Regions from separate parts of the Homo sapiens genome. Here region 1 is linked to region 2. A link means that fine-mapping ties the variant in region 2 to the expression of a gene that starts in the linked region. Tissue or cell type: whole blood. Region 2 holds a variant in brackets; the other region holds the start of a gene. All regions are shown on one strand. Distances are between the middles of the regions.

Region 1 (5,154 bases), 51 kb after region 2:
GAAATGAACCATATTCAGGACAATTTATTAACAGAGAAGAATACCATGCTTGTAGAAAAGTTAAGATTTAACATTACAAAGGTGTCAATTATCTCCAAGCTGGTCTACAGATTTAATGTAGTTCCAATCAAAACCCCAATAAAGTTTCTCATGGAACCTTCTAAGCTAGTTCTAAAACTTACAGTGGAGAGTAAGGTGCCAAAATAAAAAGCCAGGACCCAGGTACATGCATCTGTCAAAACTCATCAAATTGTACACTGTAAATCTACAACAGCAGGGAGAGGTGACCTGCCCTACTAGGTATGGGCGCTTATCAAGGAACTGTAGTAATTAAGACAGCACCGATCAGGCACACAGATGGATCAAGTGGCCCCTAATAATGAAGAGCCCAGGCTGAGGTCTCCAGACATCTCACCGCTCCCCTTGCTCTCTTGTGCTTCAGCCATCATCTTGAGAACACTCCCTAACTAACCGCACGAGGACAGGAGATGTGCGGAGCCAAGTGGAGTAGCCCCAACCATCCCAACTGAGCCCAGCCAAGGTCCACAGAGCTGCTCTCCTGACCTCCCGTGTGGGAGGAATACACTTGCTGCTGTACACCACTGAGGTCTGGTGTTTGGCCATTGATGCAGCATTTCTGGGGCAACAGATAACGGATAGGTCTGTGATGTTTATTCACTATTAAAAATAGACGAGTAAAAATAAGCCTTTGCATAGACCAGTGATGAGTGATTATGATTAATCCAATTTGATGCACCTGCAGTCCAAGAAAAATAAATAGAATATTTTGACCTGTTAAGCACAGTTTTCACTAATTTTTCCTTATCCTGTGTGCACGAAAGTCTGGACTCCTGCACCAAATTGTTGCAGAAATAAAGGGAAGCAAGAGACTCAACAGTTTAATCCATCGAGTGCTTACTGAATGAAGGGCTGACAGATGCACGTCCTTCACTAGATGCTGAGAACCAATATGAACAAAACGACACTCCTAGCCTCTAAGAGTTGGTAAGCAGGTAAGAGAAATAATTTAAATAATATTTTCATGAGCAGGCCTTGAACATTCTGACTCCTTCAGTAACTAACTTCCTATATGACTTCTTATAGCTTTTATCAACAACTAAGTTTAGCTTTTTTTTTTTAAAGATCAAATTTTAAACGCTTTTTAGTCAGTGCTGTCTCAAATCACTGGCAGGAATTGTGAAGTTCAAAGCAGAGAAAGGTCGTAGAATAGAATGGTGGTTATAAGACGCTGGGGGCTGGGGGAGGTGAGGAAGGAGGGAATGGGGAGTTGCTGATCAAAGGGTACAAAGTTTCAAACACACAGGAGACACAGCTTTTAAGACTTACTGCGCACTAGGATGCCAACAGTCAACAATAATTTACTACACATGTGTATTTCAAAATAACAAGACATTTCAAACATCTTACCACAAACAATAATAACTGAGAGAGGTGATAGATATGTTAATTAGCTTGATTTAACCACATTGCAATTGTATACACGGCTCAAAACATTACGCTGCACCCCATAAATGCACAGAGCGATTATATGTCTCAGGCATCAGGGCAGGTTGCTTCTAAACAGGGAACAACATGAGATCCCAAAGTTTCTTTTAAAGCCTAATCAGCAATTCCAATTTTCCTTTTTTCTTTTTTTTTTTTTTTTTTCCAGCAAGGTCTGGCTCTGTCCCCAAGGCTGGAGTGCAGTGGCGCCATCAAAGCTCACTGCAGCATCGACTTCCTGGTCTCCAGTGATCCTCCCACCTCAGCCTCCTGAGTAGCTGGGACCACAGGCGCGCACCCCCAAGCCCAGCTGATTTGTTCATTTTTTGTAGAAACAGGGTTTCGCCATGTTGACCTGGCTGGTCTTGAACTCCTGAGCTCAGGCGATCCTACTGCCTCGGCCTCCCAAAGTGCTGGGATTACAAGCCCGCACCCCACGCCCGGCCCCAACTTTTCTTTCTCTCTTTGCTGGAGAGGAGGCTTCGAGGTTCCCTGTTCCGGCCGAGTCCAGCGCCGCCAAGGCCTCCCCTCGGCATCCCCGCTCCAGTTCTGAGTAACTTCAAGGGCTCCGCCTCTCCACAGAGCAGCCCCGCCCAACGCCGCGGCCGCAGCCCCAGAGTCTGAGGCTTGGCTGCCGAGGTTCCCGCTTCTCCCAGAGAGCGCCTCGGCGGGCAGCACCGACTCCGTTTTAGGAAAGGCCGGGCCGGGCTGCTTGTGGGCGGTGGGCGGCCACCTCAGCAGCGCCTTTCCCGGGCGTCGGCCAGGCGGAGGGGAGGCCGCCGCACTTCTCCCCAGCCCCGGCCTGGGTCCCATCGGGCGCCCCCAAGTCCCGCGCTCCCCTAGGTCAGGCGCGCCTCCCTGCCCGCGACCGCGTCACCTTCCAGGAGCTGAGGCCCACGGCTGGGATATCTCCCATGGCCGCCGCCGGCCGCCCCGCCGCCCCGCCGCCCCGCACGCGACTACCGACAGGCACCGCGCGAGCTACTGCGGCGCTGGCGACCCGCCGTTGCGACTGGCTGGAAGTGCCTTGTGACGGCTGACACTCCGACAATGGCTGGAAGCATGAACGCAGGGCTTCCTGACTGGCTGCTGGTGTCGCGCGCCGGGCACTGACTGGCTGGTTGTATTAAGGACGGGCACCCCGATTGGCTGGAGGCGCAGAGCCAGCTGGAGTCCCAAATGGCTGGAAGCACCGCGCTCTGGACATCCTGATTGGCTGGCGGCATAGACGACGGAATTTTCGATTGGCTTGCAGAGCCACGCAGGAGCAGGGAAGGTTTTACAATCGGCTGGCATTGCCGCTCACGCCCCCACCTTAGGTGTGACCTCCTGGTTGCCTTCTCCCTCGCACCGGGTGCATATGCGACTGAGGGTAGGGCAGAGGTGCTAGGTTGATGGGCAGAGAGTCTTCACCGTTCCAGGGCCTCGCCATGGCCGGGCCATCCTAGGGCAAGCTCTAGGGTCAGGGTGCAGAGTCCTGCGTCCCCTGGGGCACAGGGTGCGCGGGAGTGGGTCCCCGCTCTCTTGTACCAAGGATGGCCATTCTCAGGTGCCCCGAGGCCCCCAGTCTGGGAGAAGCGTGCCTGGCCTTGGTTCCCCGTCAGGGAGCCACTGTGCCCTTGGAAAATGCCTTCCACTCCCTGGGTCCTGGCCCAGAGCGGCTGGGGCTTGCAGGACAGCGGGGGTCCTGGGTGGTGCAGGGGAGGCCGAGCCCTGCATGTAGAGGGGAGCGTCCTTGCTTGCAGCCTCGGGCCCCCGTTTGGAAGTGGATGGGGTGGACTGGACACCCCCCTTATGAGTGGACTGGGCTCCCCCAGGGCCAGTGGAGGGAAAGAGGGGTCAAGGGAGCCTTCCGACGCCCCTCTTATCTCTCCTGGAGCTTACAGCTCCCCCTTCATTGCCCCCCTCAGCCCTGGGAGTCCTACTGCCTTGAGGACACCCACACCCAGATGAGGGCTTTGTTTCTAGGTTCCTTGCCTGGGTCTTCAGTGCTGGCCATCAGGGGAGGCGCTGCCCATTCTGCTCAATGGGGCGGCTGCAGCCAGAGAAACTCCCAGGGTCACTCTGGGTGTCCCCCTGCCTCCCACCCAACTTGCATCTCCTGTGAGCATCCATCTCCTCAATGTGAGCTCCTCACAGGTGGGAAGGGGGATCTTCGATACTCTCATTTATTCATTCAGAAACTGTGCCTGGAGCACTCACCTGTGCACGGGGCAAGTTAGGCCAGGGTGCAGTGCTGAAAATGACCTGCATGGGCCTTGCCCTCAGGAGCTCACCATCTGTAGGAATGAATGGACAGAGCATAAAAGCAAATGCATGAGAAAAAAAAAGAGCAGGTGCTATAGTAAAATAAAGCAGGTGCTTGTGGTGAGAGGCGGAAGGGACAGAGTGAGGGAATCCTCAACACCTCAATGAAGTGGCATTTATGCTGCAAACAGAAAGGCAAAGAGTGAGGGAACCAGCCCTGCACAAGTCTGGGAACAGTATTCCTGGGGGAAGCTCTACTGCACTGCAATCGTGTATCATGCTATTTCATTGTTTTAACAGAAATTCCATAAGTCTATGACGTTGAGCATCTTTTACTCTGCTTCTTTGCTATCTGTATATCTTTGATAAGGTGTGTTTTCAGGTCTTTTGCCCATTTTTTATTTGGGTCATTCATTTTCTTATTGTTGGATTTTAAGAGTTCTTTGTGTATTTTGGATAAGAGTCCTTTATTAGATGTGTCTTTGTAAATATTTTCTCCCAGTCTGTCTGTAACTTGTCTTTTCATTTCCTTGACATTGTCTTTAGCAAAATAAAAAAATTTTTATTTTAACGAAGTGAGCTTATCAATTATTTCTTTCATGGCTCATCCCTTTGATGTTGTATTTTAAAAGTCATTGCAAAGACATAAGAATTATATAATGGACTTCGGGGACTCAGGGGGAAGGCTGGGAGGGGAGTGAGAGATAAAAGACTACACATTGGGCACAATGTACACTACTCTGGTGATGGGTGCACCAGAATATCAGAAATCACCACTAAATAACTTTTCCATGCAACCAAACACTACTTGTCGCCCCAAAACAATTGAAATAAAAATTAAAATTAAAAAATCAGAGACTAGACAGAAAAAAATTAAAATAAAAATTAGTAAATTAGAATATCCTGGAACACAGTAATCAATATAAAAAATAAAAATAAAAAAAATCACTAAACCCAAGATCATCTAGATTTTCTCTTATTTTCTAGAAGTTTCATAGTGTTGTGTTTTACATTTAGGCCTTCGATCCACTTTGAGTTAATTTTAATGAAGAGTGTGAGATCTGTGTCTGGATTTATTTTTTTGCATGTGGATGTCCAACATCATTTGTTGAAAAGACTGAAAGTTCTCCAGTGTATTGCCTTTGCTCCTTTGTCAAACATCAGCTTATTATATTTGTGGTGATCTATTTCTGTGCTATTTTGTTCCATTGATCCATTTGCCTGTTTCATAAATACCACACTGTCTTGATTACTGCAGTAGATTTATTGTAAGTCTTGAGGTCAGGTAGTGTGAGTCCTCTAACTTTGTTCTTTTCCTTCAATATTGAGTTATCTATTCTGTGTCTTTTGCTTCTTCATATGAACTATGGATTCAGTTTATCCACAAAATAATTTAGTAAGATT
Region 2 (5,154 bases):
GTAAACCTAAAACTGCTCAAAATAAAAGATCAGTGGATTCCAGGGACTCAGGGAGAGGGAAGGAGGAATGAATAGGTAAAATACAGAGGTTTTAGGGCAGTGAAACCATATTGTATGATCTAGTAGTGGTGGATACATATTGCAATGGTTAATATTGAGTGTCAACCTGACTGGATTATAGGATGCAAAGTATTGTTTCTGGGTGTGTCTGTGAGGGTGTTGCCAAGGGAGATTAACACTTGAGTCAATGGACTGGGAAAGGCAGACCCCCCCTCAATCTGAGTGGGCACCATCTAATCAGCTGCCAGCATGCCCAGAACAAAAGCAGGCAGAGAAAAATGGAAGGACTAGAATGTGCTGAGTCTTCTGGCCTCCATCCTTCTCATGTGCTGGATGCTTCCTGGTGTCAAACATCAGACTCCAGGTTCTTCAGCTTTGGGACTCTTGGACCTATACCAGTGGGTTGTCAGGGGTTCTCAGGCCTTCGGCCACAGACTGAAGGCTGCACTATCGGCTTCCCTACTTTTGAGTTTTTGGGACTCAGACTGGCTTCCTTGCTTCTCAGCTTGCAGACGGCCTATTGTGGGACTTCACCTTGTGATCGTGTGAGTCAATGCTCCTTAATAAGTTCCCCTTACATATACATCTATCCTATGAGTTCTGTCCCTCTAGAGAACCCTGACTAATACACATGACATACATTTGTCAAAACCCATAGAATGTACAATGGAGAGTGAACCCTGTGATAATGTATCAATATTGGTTCATCAATTGTAGCAAATGTTTCACACTAATACAACTTAAATAAGAGGAGAGAGTAGGGGTAAGGGTGGGTGGGAGAGGTGATATGGTGAACTCTGTGCTTTCCTATCAATGTTTCTCTTAACTTAAAACTGCTCTAAAAATTGTCTGCTAATTGTATTTTTTAAAGTACACTTGCCCCTTTTGTCTAGTGCTGAGCTGGTCCCTAGACTACCCATCCCATGGTGAAGGCAATGGTCTTGGCTCACATGTCACCCAGACAAGGGAGCAGAAAAAAATGGTTAAAATTCAGTGATGGATCCTGGTTTCTGACTTTCCATGTGCATGGAAGTGAGAAAAATGGAAACGTGGGATTATAGTGCCACTAAATACCTTCTGCAGCACAGAAACCTCTCTCACTAGTAATGTGTAAATGTAATAACACCAGTAACTTTTTTTCTGACTGAAAACAAGTAGCAATTTATTTCCCCTTGATGATAAAAGGGCCAGAAGCCTTTCCAAATCCCTTTCCCCATGGGACAAGATTGGAGCTTCGGGAAGTGTATGGGCACCATAAGTCTGAGTGGGGCCATTTGTTGGGGGAGGTAAGGAGCAAACAAAGATGTCACAATGTCCTGTGCTAGGAAAGAGGAAAACATTCTCATTCCTGCAGCCAAGGAATAACCTGATGAAAAACTGTTTCAAATTGGAGTGATGACTTCTTTGGAGAAATGCTTATGCAAGTTTTTTTTCCCCCATTTTTCAACTGGGTTATTTGTTTGTTTTTTTGCTATTGCATTGTAGATTTTTACATAGTTTAGATATTAACCCCTTATACCTGTTATTAACAGTATGCATACTTTAAAATATGTTTAAGATAGTTGATCTCATGTCAAGTGTTCTTGCAAAAAAAAAAAAATCCAAAAACTAAAACCAAAACCACACACAAAAGGACATAAGAAAATGTTTGGAGGTGATGGGCATGTTTAATGCATCGTTTGCAGTGATGGTATCACAGGTATATGCACATGCCCAAATCCATCCAGATGTATCCATTAAGTGTGTGCATGTTTTCATATAACAATTATACATTCATAAAGCCAAAAAATGTTGAGGGATGATTTATTGGCTATCAGGGGTTGCAGCAATGAACAAAATGGGAATACTCCTTAAAAATAAAGAATACTGAGATTAAATAACTAAGAAAGGCAGAAATTGCTGCTTGCTATACGTCAACAATAAATGAGCAAGAACCAAAGATGTCACCATGGTTTTCAGTCTGGAAGACTGAAATTCTCTTTTGGCCTTGTGCACAACCTGCCATCTAAGAGCACTGAGTTAATTATTTAATCAATACTGCTATGCCCTCCATGGGCTGTCATCCCAAGTAAAGCCCTTGGGAGCTTCATGCATACAGCTGTGGATGACAATCATGGCTTGGCCTGTGTTGCTGGTATTCTAAAAGATGT[C/T]TGATACCATGCAATGCAGCACTGCATGTCCCTGGTAAGCTTGGTGTTGGTGGTTCTGTAACCTAATTCTCCTGCTTGGCATTCTGCAGGTGGAATATCACCCTTACCTCAACCAAAGCAAACTCCTGGAGTACTGTAAGTCCAAGGACATTGTCATGACTGCATATTCTGCCTTGGGGTCTGACTCAGACAAAGACTGGTAATCATCTTCATAAAGTTATTTTGTTTATTTTTTTTAGGTGGGGGTCTCATTCTGTCATCCAGGCTGGAGTGCAGGGGCACAATCACAGCTTGTTGCAGGCTTGACCTTCCAGGCTCAAGTCAGGATCTTCCCTCCTAGACCTCCTAAGTAGCTGGGACTACAGGAGTGCACCACCATGCCTGGCTAATTGTTTATTTTCATTTTTGTAGAGACAGGGTCTCACTACGTTACCCAAGCCAGTCTTGAATTCCTGGGCTCAAGTGATCCTCCCACCTTGGCCTCCCAAAGTGCTGGGATTAGAGGTGTAAGCCACGGTGACTGGCCTATAAAGTTATTTTAATCATAGATACTGTACCTTCCGAAGTAATCTCTCAATCAGCTGGCAAAATTAAAAATAGACAGCAGGAATAAATTCATCTGTAAACCTTTTACCTAACCCAGACCTACATTATAAGAACTAAATAGAACTGCCACCTTCCATTCCTTTGTCCTTCTTTGGTTATAACAAAAGATGCAAAACAGATATTGAGACAGCCAGAAGGTAATGAGGAAGGTTCTGGAGGATTAGCATCCCTGGCCAAAATAAGCAGCCCGCAAGTAAAATGGATATTCAGCCTCAGACTTGCAGCACCTCTGCCTCTCCTCTCAGGGTGAAAAAAGGAAACCCAGTTCTCCAGGAGGATCCAATACTCAATGCCATTGCTGAAAAGCCCAGGCGAACTCCAGCCCAGGTTGCCTTGTGCTACCAGCTGCAGCGCGGGGTGGTGGTCCTGGTGAAGAGCTTCAATGAGAAGAGAATCAAAGAAAACTTCCAGGTACAGGGCATGGTGGTGGCAGCAGGGGATTGACAGAGGCACATCATTTCCCCACGGTATCTGAGTTTTTGCAAAGCTCTCAAGGTATATTTGGGCAAAGCTTATCTCCTTTTACATTCTATGCATATAAGCATATAAGCACCATATTTAATTGCTTTGTCTCCCCTTGCTGCAAGGGAGAGTGTGATGGTTGGAAAGGACACTAAAGAGAAGGTCAGGAGAGGGTCCTAATCCGGGTTTTTCCCCTATAGTATGGCGCTGGGTAAGTCATCCCTTGATTTCTATAGCTGTAAAATAAAGGAATTAGATCACGTGAGGTTTGGGCTTAAAATTCTCTAGGATTTCTTTGCTATCATGATGGCTCCCCAATAAAAGTATCTGAGGGAAGATTAACCATGCCAATCTCAACTTTATAAATGGACAAATTCCCATGACATGCCACTGAATGAATCCTTGGTCCATGAAAACTCACTCATAAAACCTACACAAAGTCCTACATGGATTTGTCTGTTTGTGGAGAGGGGAGAAGAGGAACAGCAATTGCCTCAAGGATATTAAATTGATCTTCTCACGTTTCTGACAGGTTTTTGACTTCTAGCTGACACCAGAGGACATGAAAACCACAGATGGCTTGAACAAGAATATATGCCATTTGTAAATGTCTATGTAAGTAGCTTGTTTCGTTGTTGACACTAGGGAGCAGGACAGTGGGGGAATTCCATTGATTTCAGCCCACAGAAGGCAGGGTTTGTTGCTTAGGAAAGTTGTTGGAAAACATTTTTTCTTCAGACTTCATATCAGACATTTTTTTTTCTCCAAGGCTCATAGCTCTGCCCAGACAAGAGTGTGAGCAGAACTCAATAGAGACGGAAGCTCCCCGTTTAAGACTGGGCTCTCCTGGCTCCACACTGCCTCTGTGTGTCCCTCATCACTAGGCTTCCCTCCAATCTACATGCTAATAATTCCATGGTTTCTATCTCTAACCTAGACATTTTTCTTGGTCTCTTGTAGCCCACTGATTTTCTTTTAAATTAAAATTCCCTAGAGATAGTTCTATTTATTCCCACAGTTCAAACTTAATACACTTAAAATTAAAGCCTTCAATGTTTTCTCTATATATACTCTTCATGGTAATACTACACACATCACCATTATGGCACAAACCTCATCCCCTACATCTAAATAACCACCTAGTCCTGTTGATTCTATATTTCAACATTTCTCATGTTGATTCTAAATTTCAACATTTCTCATGTTTCTCTAATTTCCATCACAAAGCCCACCCCCTCTGATTCAGGTTTTGAACCTGAATCAGCTCTCTTGCAAGGCTGGCCACAGGGGTGGATCTTCAGCTGTGGTTTCTGAACAATGTTCAGAACTTTGCTCAGGTCTGGGGGGGTTTTCAATAGTAAAGAGTAAGCAGGTTCGGAAAATCAAGAAGGAAAAAGGGAACAGGCTGAGTATCAAGCAAATGGAGGTGATAATGAAAATCCAATGGCAGGAAAAAAGTTATTTCCAAAGATAGACTTTTAATGGCCCTTCAAACTTTTAGACTCTATGATTCTCAGAAGGCTGTAGAGAAAAATCTGTAAGCTATTTTTTTTTCTGTTCAGTGACATTTAGTACATATATGTATGTAAACATCTCCAAACACGGGAAGAGCAAGCAATCCAGTAGCTCCTGGACAGACTCCCATCCTCCCCTGCCAACCAGCCCCTTAACTCCCTTGAGGCTAACATGGTCTTTGTCACTGTTAGTTCAGTCACTACAGGAGCCTAAAATTCCTGGTTCCCAAATAGCTCTGTGTACACCACCTCAACATGTTTTCACTGTGCTTTCTGAAACTCCTACTCAACCACTGGCAAAACCGTTTTATCTTTGTTGTCTTCTCTAAATGTTCTTTTCACCTTTTCCCAATAGCTGAAAC

Evidence for each region. PIP is the estimated chance that this variant, and not a neighbour inherited with it, causes the effect.
Region 1: AKR1E2 starts here. The variant in region 2 is fine-mapped to the expression of AKR1E2 in whole blood (INTERVAL, PIP 0.91).

The regions. Positions count from the first base shown.
Region 1 is chr10:4,823,590-4,828,743 of GRCh38, reverse strand. It overlaps AKR1E2 (aldo-keto reductase family 1 member E2), which reads right to left and starts at 2,537. Exons shown (of 10, transcript NM_001040177.3): 1 at 2,381-2,537. The coding sequence starts at 2,419. RefSeq lists a silencer at 2,031-2,110.
Region 2 is chr10:4,874,710-4,879,863 of GRCh38, reverse strand. It overlaps the pseudogene AKR1C6P. Among named protein-coding and RNA genes, the nearest start is that of AKR1E2, 51 kb to the right of the region's middle. The variant C/T (reference allele first, on the strand shown) is at 2,211.